Linked DNA regions of Homo sapiens: region 1 is linked to region 2. Evidence: fine-mapped QTL for protein levels in blood plasma. Region 2 holds a variant in brackets. A gene starts in the other region. All regions are shown on their forward strands. Region 1 holds the start of REEP4 (receptor accessory protein 4). Region 2 has its middle 27 kb from the start of PRB2.

The links. PIP is the posterior inclusion probability: the model's chance that the variant is causal. Protein levels are from antibody-based Olink assays in UK Biobank. Linkage for the fine-mapping came from a reference panel and not from the study's own genotypes, which makes the PIPs less certain.
Region 1: REEP4 starts here. The variant in region 2 is fine-mapped to the plasma level of the REEP4 protein (UK Biobank, PIP above 0.99).

What each region holds. Positions count from the first base shown.
Region 1 is chr8:22,139,900-22,145,280 of GRCh38, forward strand. It overlaps REEP4 (receptor accessory protein 4), which reads right to left and starts at 2,008. Exons shown (of 8, transcript NM_025232.4): 1 at 1,552-2,008; 2 at 726-798; 3 at 273-349; 4 at 64-184. The coding sequence starts at 1,583. RefSeq lists enhancers at 1-389, 390-997 and silencers at 1,762-1,911, 1,922-2,051.
Region 2 is chr12:11,420,343-11,425,723 of GRCh38, forward strand. No RefSeq gene overlaps it. Among named protein-coding and RNA genes, the nearest start is that of PRB2, 27 kb to the left of the region's middle. The variant T/G (reference allele first, on the strand shown) is at 3,342.

The DNA of each region.
Region 1 (5,381 bases), not on the chromosome of region 2:
GGTCCAGGGCTCTTTCCCTCATACCCACCCCTAAGCCTCCCTTCCCGCTTCCCCCTGGGGTACCTTCTCATGGCGGGACAGGGACGGGTGGACAAACTTGCGGTAAAGCAGGCTGGCGCCCTTGGTGTAGGGTGAGAGCAGCCACAGCACGAAGGCCATCTTGATCTCATAGTAGAAAGGGAACCTGTCACAGCACAAGGGGCAGGGTGAGCCAAGGAGCAGGGCTGGGGGGGCCACCCCTGACCCATGGCTTGCGGACCCTGCGTCCATACCAGGAGATAAAAATGTCTGTAACGATCTCTGCTGCCATGAAGAGTGCAAAAACAATCCAGTACATCATCCACCGCACCTGTGGGGTGAGCGCCCAGAGGTCAGCATGGGGCCTGCAGCACCAACTCCCAACCCAGGCCAGCCCAGCCCAGAGATTCCAGGGAGCCTGTCCGGCTGCATAGCTGCTTTCCCCCACACATGGCTGGACAGGAGCTCTGAGAAACTGCTGCTCATTCCTATGCCCGCCTCCAACAAGCTTCACCCACCAGATCTTCCACAGGCACCCCGATGGCCTGCCCTCTATCTACACCCTCTTGAACAGGGCCCATTCTCTCTCCCTCCCCACTCCACTCAGGATGTGCCACACAGCCTTGCCCCTGGAGGAGGGAGAGGCCAACTGAGACCCTCCCCACCTCACCAAGTCCTATTAAACACACCCAAACCCCCACGCTCACATATTCACGAATGTTCTTGGTCTTCACAGCCTTATAGGAAGCATAAGCTGGACACAGCATCCCAAACACCAGCCTGGAAGAGCAGCCATGGGGAGTGTGAGGGGCACCATGCCCCACTCCCACCTTGCCAAGTGGCCATTTCCCCCCACTGGGGTGCAAGGTGGCAGTACCCGCCCTGTTTTTCTCGCTTGGCTTGTACAACCCGTGCCTGAGTCAGAGCCCTGGAGGCCACCTCCCCACCCTGCTGTTTACAAACATCCCAAGCCTGCCCAGGCCTGCACCGGTGGCCCATGGGTGCATGATGGAGTGAGAGGACAGCCACTCCACGAAGTGGGTGAGAACACCAGACTGTCCCCTCCCATGGGCATGCAATCAGGCCCAGGGTCACCAGACCTGACACTGCTGGGTTGCAGATAGGGCTATGTGAGCCAGATGTTGGCATACTCAAAGGTGAGGAATAGGATGGTGAGTCATGTGACTGCTCAGATGGCAAGCAGGCACCTGGATTCTCCGCCCACAACGTGCCATATCACCTTGTGTTTGCCAAGGGGCAGCAAGGTAGGCCTGTGGCCCTCGGCTCCACGCATCTGTTTGCAGTGTGTGTGGCGTGCGGCAGGGGTCGTTCTCAGCCAACGAGGCTTGGTGGGGCGGGTAGCCTGCGGTGCCCCAGACACCGCGTGCAAGCCCACAGGTCCGTTAACCCTTGCATGGAGTGCTGGAGGGTGGAGCTCAGAAAGTTCCTCCTCCCACTAGACGTCCACAGCTTCCACCACAGGGGCGGGACGGCACCCCGGGGTAGAGGAGGTCTGAGGGCGGCCATACTCACACCACCAGGCGACAGATCATCCAGGACACCATCTTGCCGGCCTTTGGGACGTGGGGAGGACCCCAGGAAGCCGCTCAGAAGGACGTTCACTCAAGGGCTGGGACGGGGGGTGATCAGGGCAGTTGCGGGAAGCAGAGGGGCGATCCGGCTGTCCCTCGGCGGAGGCAGAGCCCGCCGCCCACGGCCTCCGACTGTGCAGTTCAGGGGACCTGGAGAATGGGGAGACCCGAGGCAAAGCGGCCCCGGCGGGGAGGAAGCCGACTTGGGAGCGGGCGCGCCCCGCGGCCGGGGCAGTTACAGCTCCCACCCGCCCTTTCTGCCGCGGAGAACCTGGCGCTCGGCCCTTGCTGCTGGTCCCGCGCTGGAGCGGGTCGCCGCGGTTCCAGCGCGCCGGGCCACCAGCACCGGCCTACAGGGCGGAGTTCGCAACTCACTTGAAAGTTGCACGGAACCGAGTGCTGCCCAACCCCAGGGCTCCGGCTTGCCACGCAGGCGCAGTGTAGCCCCGGAGGGGGCGGGGCGAGGTCAGGGAGGCGAGAGGCCGGCCCCTTAAAGGGGCGATGTGCCGCGGGACTCGCGCGTGGGGCCCACAGTGGAGCCACCTTCCCAATCGGAAAGATTAGCGTGTGGGAAGCTGTAACAAAAAAGCAGGGGGAGTGCGGGGGTCGGCACACAAAGAAAATCTGGACTCCAGAGTTTAAGCGACCCTTCACTGGCTTTTCCCGGTGTCTTTCCCTCTCGCCTCATTTTCCCCTCTGTGAACCGGGTAAAGGCATGAGATGCGGTTGGTGGGGTAGAGGGAAGGATCTCCTCTGCAGGCTCAGTCAGGAGCTGGAAGGAAGCTTGGCTGAGCGCCAGCAAGTCCGGGTCTCACACCAGTGGGTCCAGGAGGGAAAGGGGGGAGGTGTGGGGGGAGAGGGAACCTGAGGGACTTTTTGCCCCACCAGGTTTCAGGGGTTCCCTTCTCTCTGGGATGCCTTTCCAGATCCCTGACTCCGGGGCAGGCTGACCGCGATGATTTGAGGCATTCTGGGTAGAGCTCTCAGCTCCCACACTCCTTCAGCAGAAGTTTGAAATTCCACCTATTCCTCTGAGCCAAGTACACAAATAACCCTGGGCCCTTAATAGTAGTATCAACCATTGCCATTTTGTAATGCACGTTTGCACGCAAGGTCTTAGTCTTTGCAAACTTCTTTTAACCATGTAGGAAATAGGATGCTCAGTGGTGAAAAGTAACTTTCCTGGTATCACCCAGTGGTATTTATTGCTGGCTGGTGGCTACATGCTTGGCTTGATCAGTCTTCTGAGAGATCAGCAGCTGCAGGCTGAGTGGCCCTGCAGAGGGCCATGGAACCGGATAAGTTCCTCTGGGAGGGAGGCAGATGCCAGGAAGAAGGGGGAAGGCTCTAAAAAAGAAGGCAAACGTTGCTGCTTCTACTACTTGCCCTGTGAGGTTTCATTCTTTTTGACATCTTCAGCTTACTGCCTCTGTTGTTCCCTCTGAAAATAGTGTCCCCCCACCTTGCAGAGGGTGGGAGCAAAGCTGTCCGGGCATGTGGGGTGGAAACACAGGCAGTTACTGCTTTTTATTGGAGCCACAGTTAACCCCCACCAGCTATCATAAGGATGGAATAGGTAATCATGGGGCCAGGGAAAGGAGGCTTCTGGGGGATAAATAAACACACGGTGATTATATGGTCTTAATTACTGTCATCAGTTTTATTGGTATTGCTGGGTGTGAGAGCCAGCAGTGAAACCAGCCCACAGGAGAAACTTCCCCGAGGCCCCATGTCTCCCTCTCCTCTCTTAACCAACCCTCACATTTACCTGTCCCCCCTTACACACACACATTGGAGTAACCAAAAAGGCCAAGGGCTAGAGGAACTCCTAAGGAAGGCCCCAGCCACTGTCCATCTTTAGGCACAGACATGGTTCTCTAGGTGAAAAGTGTCCTGGGTCTCCCTGAAGGAGGAAAGCTGTGACTGAATAGGGGAGCAGCTGAAAGGGACATCCATGACTCAGGAGGTCACTGCACACGTGAGCCTCGGGTCCTTTGGTGCGTGCTGCAGAACTGTCCCTTCCCTGCTGGCTGCCTTCTGGGGCCACGCACCTGACCTCAGCATCACAGGCCTCTGTCTACCCCCATTTGCTGGGAAACATTACCTGGGCCCGCCCAAAGCTCATTCAGCTGGGATGGTCTCCCGTATGGAGACTCCTGGTCCCAATGCCTGTGCTTGGGAAATCTCAGAGAAGAGATGTCAGAGGTCTGCGCTGACAGCAAGGCTCAGCACGGAGGGCAAGAGGCTGGCAGCTGAGGAGTGTCACCATCCCTGGTCTTGGCAGAGTGAGTAGACCTTGCCTCTTGCAGCCTTTGGTCCTGAGCTGTTGACACAGTCACCCAATTCCACTGGGTTGCTAAGCAGCACTCTGGACGTGGACAAGCCCCAGGGCAAGTGACCCAGCAGGCACACACAGAAAGCCAGGCACTCGGGCCAAGGGAGGAAAGTGCCTCCCACCCCTCAGAAGAGCTCCCCCCTGGGGGCAGCAGCTGTCAAAGTGATATTTATCTTTCTACTGGGCAGCAGAGTGCCAGCGTGTCTGGGAGACTCAACCCACTTTCCCTGGCAACCTCTCCCAAGCACAGGATAAGGGCCCGTTTCCCATTTGGAAAAGAAGGACAGGCCTCCCCAGAATGATGGAGGTGCCTGCTAAGCTAAGAGCATATTTGAGGAGGTGAAAAGCAGGTAAGTCACCTATTGCTGGGGGTGAGGAGGCCAGGTCAGAGGCTGCAGGTAAGATATGGGGCACAGGGGCTCCAAGACTGAGGATGGGTGAGGAACCATCACCCACAGACAGTTCTCTCCAAAGATCCACCTCCTCCTCTTGCACAAAACACCCCTCTCTGAGCCACTTCTGTTTTCATATATTCCCATAGACCAAGGCAAATCATAATCATGTGCTGGACACACTATACAAATGGACTTACATATACTAATGCATTTCACTCTCATGAGAAATAATCCTGTCAGGGTAGGATGCGGTGGCTCATGCCTGTAGTAATCCCAACACTTTGGGAGGCCGAGGACGGCAGATCATTGAGGTCAGGAGTTCGAGACCAGTCTGGTGAACATGGTGAAACCCATCTCTACTAAAAATATGAAAATTAGTCAGGGGTGGGGGCGTGCTCCTGTAGTCCCAGCTACTTGGAAGGCTGAGGCAGGAGAATTAATTGAACCTAGGAGGCTGAGGTTGCAGTGACTCAAGATCGCACTACTGCACTCCAGCCTAAGCTGGAAAAAACAAACAACAAACCCTGTCAGGTAGGTATCACGATTATACTCATTTTATAAATAAGAAAAACCGAGGCACAAATAGGCTAAGTAACGTGGCTGAATGTTACTAGCTGGTTTCACCCGGCTGGCAGAATCAGGAACCCATGAAGTGGGGTTTTTAAATCTGCTTCACAGAAGGAGAAATTGAAGCTCAGGGAAATCAGCTGACTTGCTTGAAATCTCACACCATGGAAAGGGACTGAGCCAGAATTCACACCCATGTTATCCAGGCTCCAGACCCCACTCCTCTGTGCACAGCTGCTCACAGGTGCTCGCTGAAGAGAGAGAAACGAAGGGTTTTTGTGATATGCGAGAGCTGAGAGGGGCTCTGGAGGACAAATGAAAACCTGGAGACTCAGAGAAGGGATTTGACCTGCCCAGGGTCACACAGCAAGCACCACTGCCCAAGGATCTATCATTTCCCCCGTTTCCATCCCCTGTCCCTTACACTGTCACCAACCCACACAAGGCCACAAAAGGATTTCATTTACTCAAGCC
Region 2 (5,381 bases):
AAGAGGAAGTCAAATTGTCCCTGTTTGCAGATGACATGATTGTATATCTAGAAAACCCCACTGTCTCAGCCCAAAATCTCCTTAAGCTGATAGGCAACTTCAGCAAAGTCTCAGGATACAAAATCAATGTGCAAAAATCAGAAGGATTCTTAAACACCAATAACAGACAGAGAGCCAAATTATGAGTGAACTCCCATTCACAATTGCTTCAAAGAGAATAAAATACCTAGGGATCCAACTTACGAAGGAAGGGGAAGGACCTCTTCAAGGAGAATTACAAACCACTGCTCAATGAAATAAAAGAGGATACAAACAAATGGAAGAACATTCCATGTCATGGGTAGGAAGAATCAATATCATGAAAATGGCCATACTGCCCAAGGTAATTTATAGATTCAATGCCATCCCCATCAAGCTACAAATGACTTTCTTCACAGAATTGGAAAAAACTACTTTAAAGTTCATATGGAACCAAACAAGAGTCTGCATTGCCAAGTCAATCCTAAACCAAAAGAACAAAGCTGGAGTCATCACGCTACCTGAGAAAACTATTTAATAAATGGTGCTGGGAAAACAGGCTAGCCATATGTAGAAAGCTGAAACTGGATCCCTTCCTTACACCTTATACAAAAATTAAGTCAAGATGGATTAAAGACTTAAATGTTAGACCTAAAACCATAAAAACCCTAGAAGAAAACCTAGGCAATACCATTCAGGACATAGGCTTGGGCAAGGACTTCATGTCTAAAACACCAAAAGCAATAGCAACAAAAGCCAAAATTGACAAATGGGATCTCATTAAACTAAAGAGCTTCTACACAGCAAAAGAAACTACCATCAGAGTATATAGGCAACCTACAGAATGGGAGAAAATGTTTGCAATCTACTCATCTGGCAAAGGGGCTGATATTCAGAATCTACAATGAACTCCAACAGATTTACAAGAAAAAAACAAACAACCCCATCAACAAGTGGGTGAAGGATATGAACAGACACTTTTCAAAAGAAGATATTTATGCAGCCAAAACACACATGAAAAAATGCTCATCATCACTGGCCATCAGAGAAATGCAAATCAAAACCACAATGAGATACCATCTCACACCAGTTAGAATGGTAATCATTAAAAAGTCAGGAAACAACAGGTGCTGGAGAGGATATGGAGAAATAGGAACACTTTTACACTGTTGGTGGGACTGTAAACTAGTTCAACCATTGTGGAAGTCAGTGTGGCGATTCCTCAGGGATCTAGAACTAGAAATACCATTTGACCTAGCAATCCCATTACTGGGTATATACCCAAAGGATTATAAATCATGCTGCTATAAAGACACATGCACACGTATGTTTATTGCGGCACTATTCACAATAGCAAAGACTTGGAACCAACCCAAGTGTCCAACAATGATAGACTGGATTAAGAAAATGTGGCACATATACACCATGGAATATTATGCAGCCATAAAAAATGATGAGTTCATGTCCTTTGTAGGGACATGGATGAAATTGGAAACCATCATTCTCAGCAAATGATCGCAAGGACAAAAAACCAAACACCTCATGTTCTCACTCATAGGTGGGAATTGAACAATGAGAACACATGGACACAGGAAGGGGAACATCACACACCAGGGCATGTTGTGGGGTGGGGGTAGGGGGGAGGGATAGCATTGGGAGATATACCTAATGCTAAATGATGAGTTAATGGGTGCAGCACACCAACATGGCACATGTATCCATATGTAACTAAACTGCACATTGTGCACATGTACCCTAAAAAAGTATAATAAGAAAAAAAGAAAAAAGTATCACTTTGTATATATTTTTATTTATCATTTTCTGTCTTTTAGTCATAATATTTTTTTAAAAATTTTATTAGTAAGTGCCTGCCAGTCTGTTGTGTATACTGGTGCACATTTAATATGAAAGTTTAATTCACGACATTTTGAAGTTGAAATGCAAAGTCTTCTTAAACTTCCATCTGGCTGGGTGCCATGGCTCATGCCTGTAATTCCAACACTTTGGGAGGCTGAGGCAGTTGGATCACTTGAAGTCAAGAGTTCAAGACCAGGCTGGCCTTAGCCTTGCTTTCTGTACAGTCTGCAGAACTGCAAGTAAATTAAATCTCTTTCATTTATAAATTACCCAGTGTCAGGTAGTTATTTACAGCAATGCGAGAACAGACTAATACAGATCTGCAGAAATATTCCATTAGGAAAAATACTCAATAGTATATAAACAAGTCAACATTGTGATTAAAAAAAAAAATACACCATGTTGAAAGAATATGTCAAGGATGGTTCAGTAAGGAATTTGGACACACCCTATCAATGGCCTCAGAAACTTCACTAAGTTCAAAGAAATCAGGAAAGAAGGATCTCACCATAACTACCACCACATTGACCAACCCACACAGAACTCAAACCTACATATTCTCTGGCTTCTCTCATGATGGTAAGTGAAGTTCCTTGGCCCTATCTTTTACCTTCATGCTAGATTCCATACCGTATTACCTAATCAAGGATTTTGCTTCCGTAATTATGTTCCATTTCTCCCTGCATCTTCAATTTGTTCTTCTTTATGACAAATGTGCTGTAATATCTCCCATTTTTACAAAGCTCTCTCTACATATTTAATGCCTCTCCATTTACCACACAATTTGTCTGACATCTTTATTGCAAAAATCTTTGAAAAGAATGTTATAGTTATTGTTCGCCATGTTCTCACCTCCCATTTTCTCTTCCACACACTCTATAGGGGCTTTTGTACTCACCACTTCCATCATTTTCATAATAATGAAATCCAAATCTGTTTCTAAAGCCAAGGTTCTGCATAATTGGTCCCCTGCCTATCTCCTATCTTTGAACTTATTGACTTCTCTATAACTAATTTACTTCACTAATTTAGCCACACTGGCCTCTTAACACTATGCCAATATACCAAGCTTGCTTATATCTTTATCAAGCATGTTTTGTCCCTTTATTCAAATCTGTTCAAATGTCACCATTTTGAAGCCTTCTTTGAATACACAAAAATCCTCAATCCCCTTAACTTGCTTATTTTTGTATCAAAATTGTTGTCATTAGGAGACAGCTGATACCCAAGATTCCTTCCTCCTGATATTCACATGCTTGTGTGGTTCCCACCTTAATATATCAGGATTGGTCTGTGTGACCCATAGAATATGAGGAAAGTGTTAGTATATATTAATACCCCTGAGATCATGTTATAAAAGAAACTGTGGCTTCATTTTTTTTTTTTTTTTGGCAACTTCACTCTGTCTGTCTCTTTGTCTCACTGTCTTGATCTCTCTCTTTCTCTCTTTCCCTTTCTCACATCTT[T/G]TACTTTGGGAAAGACCAGCAGCCATGTCCAATAGCTTTATGGAGAGGCCATCCTTTCCAAGTGAATCTCTAGGCGTCTCCTTCATTTGACTTCACAGTGAAGCAAGCACCTAGAGGGGATGAGAAGGAAAAGTTTCCCACCCTCAATCTCTCAGTCCCCACTTGATCTCTATAACAATTTCACTCTGCCCAAATTGTGTCTAATGTGGACACAGTGGGGTGAATGATAGGGATGCATTGGCTTCCTTCTAGTAGGCCCTGCTAGGAAGTGAGGTGTCAGTTTCAAGTACTGATGACTTTTTGGTTGTGATTTCATTTTTAGAATGAGGAAATATTATTTGCCTTTTGTTCACCAATATCATCACTACCCTGTACCTATTAATTACGCTTATATTTCCTTCCTTACAAAACCTTTTGTTTTTCCTGGAGTTAATAATTACCTCCTTTTTCTCACTTATTTGGTTTTCTTTAAACATCTAAGTCTTCCTGACACTTCCAACGGACTTGTAAAATCCCTCTTCATACAATTTTCCTCACTGACACTTCTCAGATAATTTGCCTTTGTCCTGGAAATTTTATTTTCTTCTCTCAAATAGGGTGATGCATATCCTGAGTTAATGCCTCCCTCTTTCTCAGCCTTCTTCTTTGGTGAAACCCATTCTTCCATAGCTTGTTGCAAATGAGCCACATGAGAGGGGAAACATTTCAAGATCATTCATGTCTAAGAATGTGCTTAGTCTGGCCTCACACTTGACTGATAATCTGGCCAAATATAGGACACTAGGTTGAAAATGACTTTTGCTCAGAATCTTTCTGACACCATCTTCTAACTTTTACCCTTCCATTTTCACTCTAATTCTCAATCCTTAGTGTAAAACTGTTTTTTTCCTCCACTGGAATCTTGAGGATCATCCTTTTATCCCTAAAATTTAATTAGATTTAAGTTGATATGGATCTCTTTCCATTTATTGTGCTGGGCACTCAGTATTCTATTCCGGGTGTTGCAGGGGCTGTGCTGGGCCCTACATTTTAGATTGGTCTCCACACACCCCAAAACCAAACGCATGGTTTAATTCCTTTCACTCTCCTTGGAAAATATTTTAAAAGTCCAGCAAATAAATAAAAAACAGGAATTGTGGGAGAGGGGCACAGGCAGAACTGTGGTCCTCAAGTCCTGAGGATGCAGAATTGAGAAGGTACAATGAGAATAAATTCACAGCTTCTGCTCTGGGACACCAGAGAAAAAAATGAATGCTTTTGCTTAATGTTTTTCAGCTTAAAAAGACCAAAGAGCACATCTGGGCAGACAGGTTCACCCACTCTCCCTCCATAAATGCACTCTCTACTACTCCTGTGGTCAGTAATATCATTTGGGGAGCTGCTTAGAACCTCCTGGGAAACCCAAATCAGAAGTGAGGCAGGGCAGAGAGCATCGCTTGCCTAGCAGGCTCCCACAAAAGCTTGGCCAGGTCAATGCTTGGCCCCCACCCAGCTTCCACCCTGCTGCTCCAGCAGACAGCCCTACCCCTCTCCATCCTCCCACCTCCCAGCTTGCAGTCAGGGTTAATGCAGGGAAACACATGTTCCTTTAGCCTCCTGGCTAGTTGAGAAAGGCAGTTTCCAAGAGACAGACTGCAGGACTTATGTGGAACCTGACATGAATCTAGGGTCTAGACACTTTATAACTTATAGAGTAGGGGCTATAAAGTAGGTGGGGCTCCATTTGTATTCCTGCACTGGGCACTGCAAATGGTTAAGTGTGGGCCTGCGGATCAACATTGGGCCCTTTCAATATGGAGAATACACCTTAAGTTCTGGGAAATCTAGTGTTTCATTGACTATTTCTTTCCCATATAGTCTCTGTTTTCTTTGTCTAATGTTGGTTGAATTTTTTTTTCTCACCCATGGATCATCTCTTTTCATTCTATCTTATGGGAGAGTTCCTTAACTTTATCTTCTACTGCGCTTATCATCAACTGAATTTATAATTGCCAATATTTCTTTTTGTTTTCCAGTCATTCCTTTATTTAATAACATCCT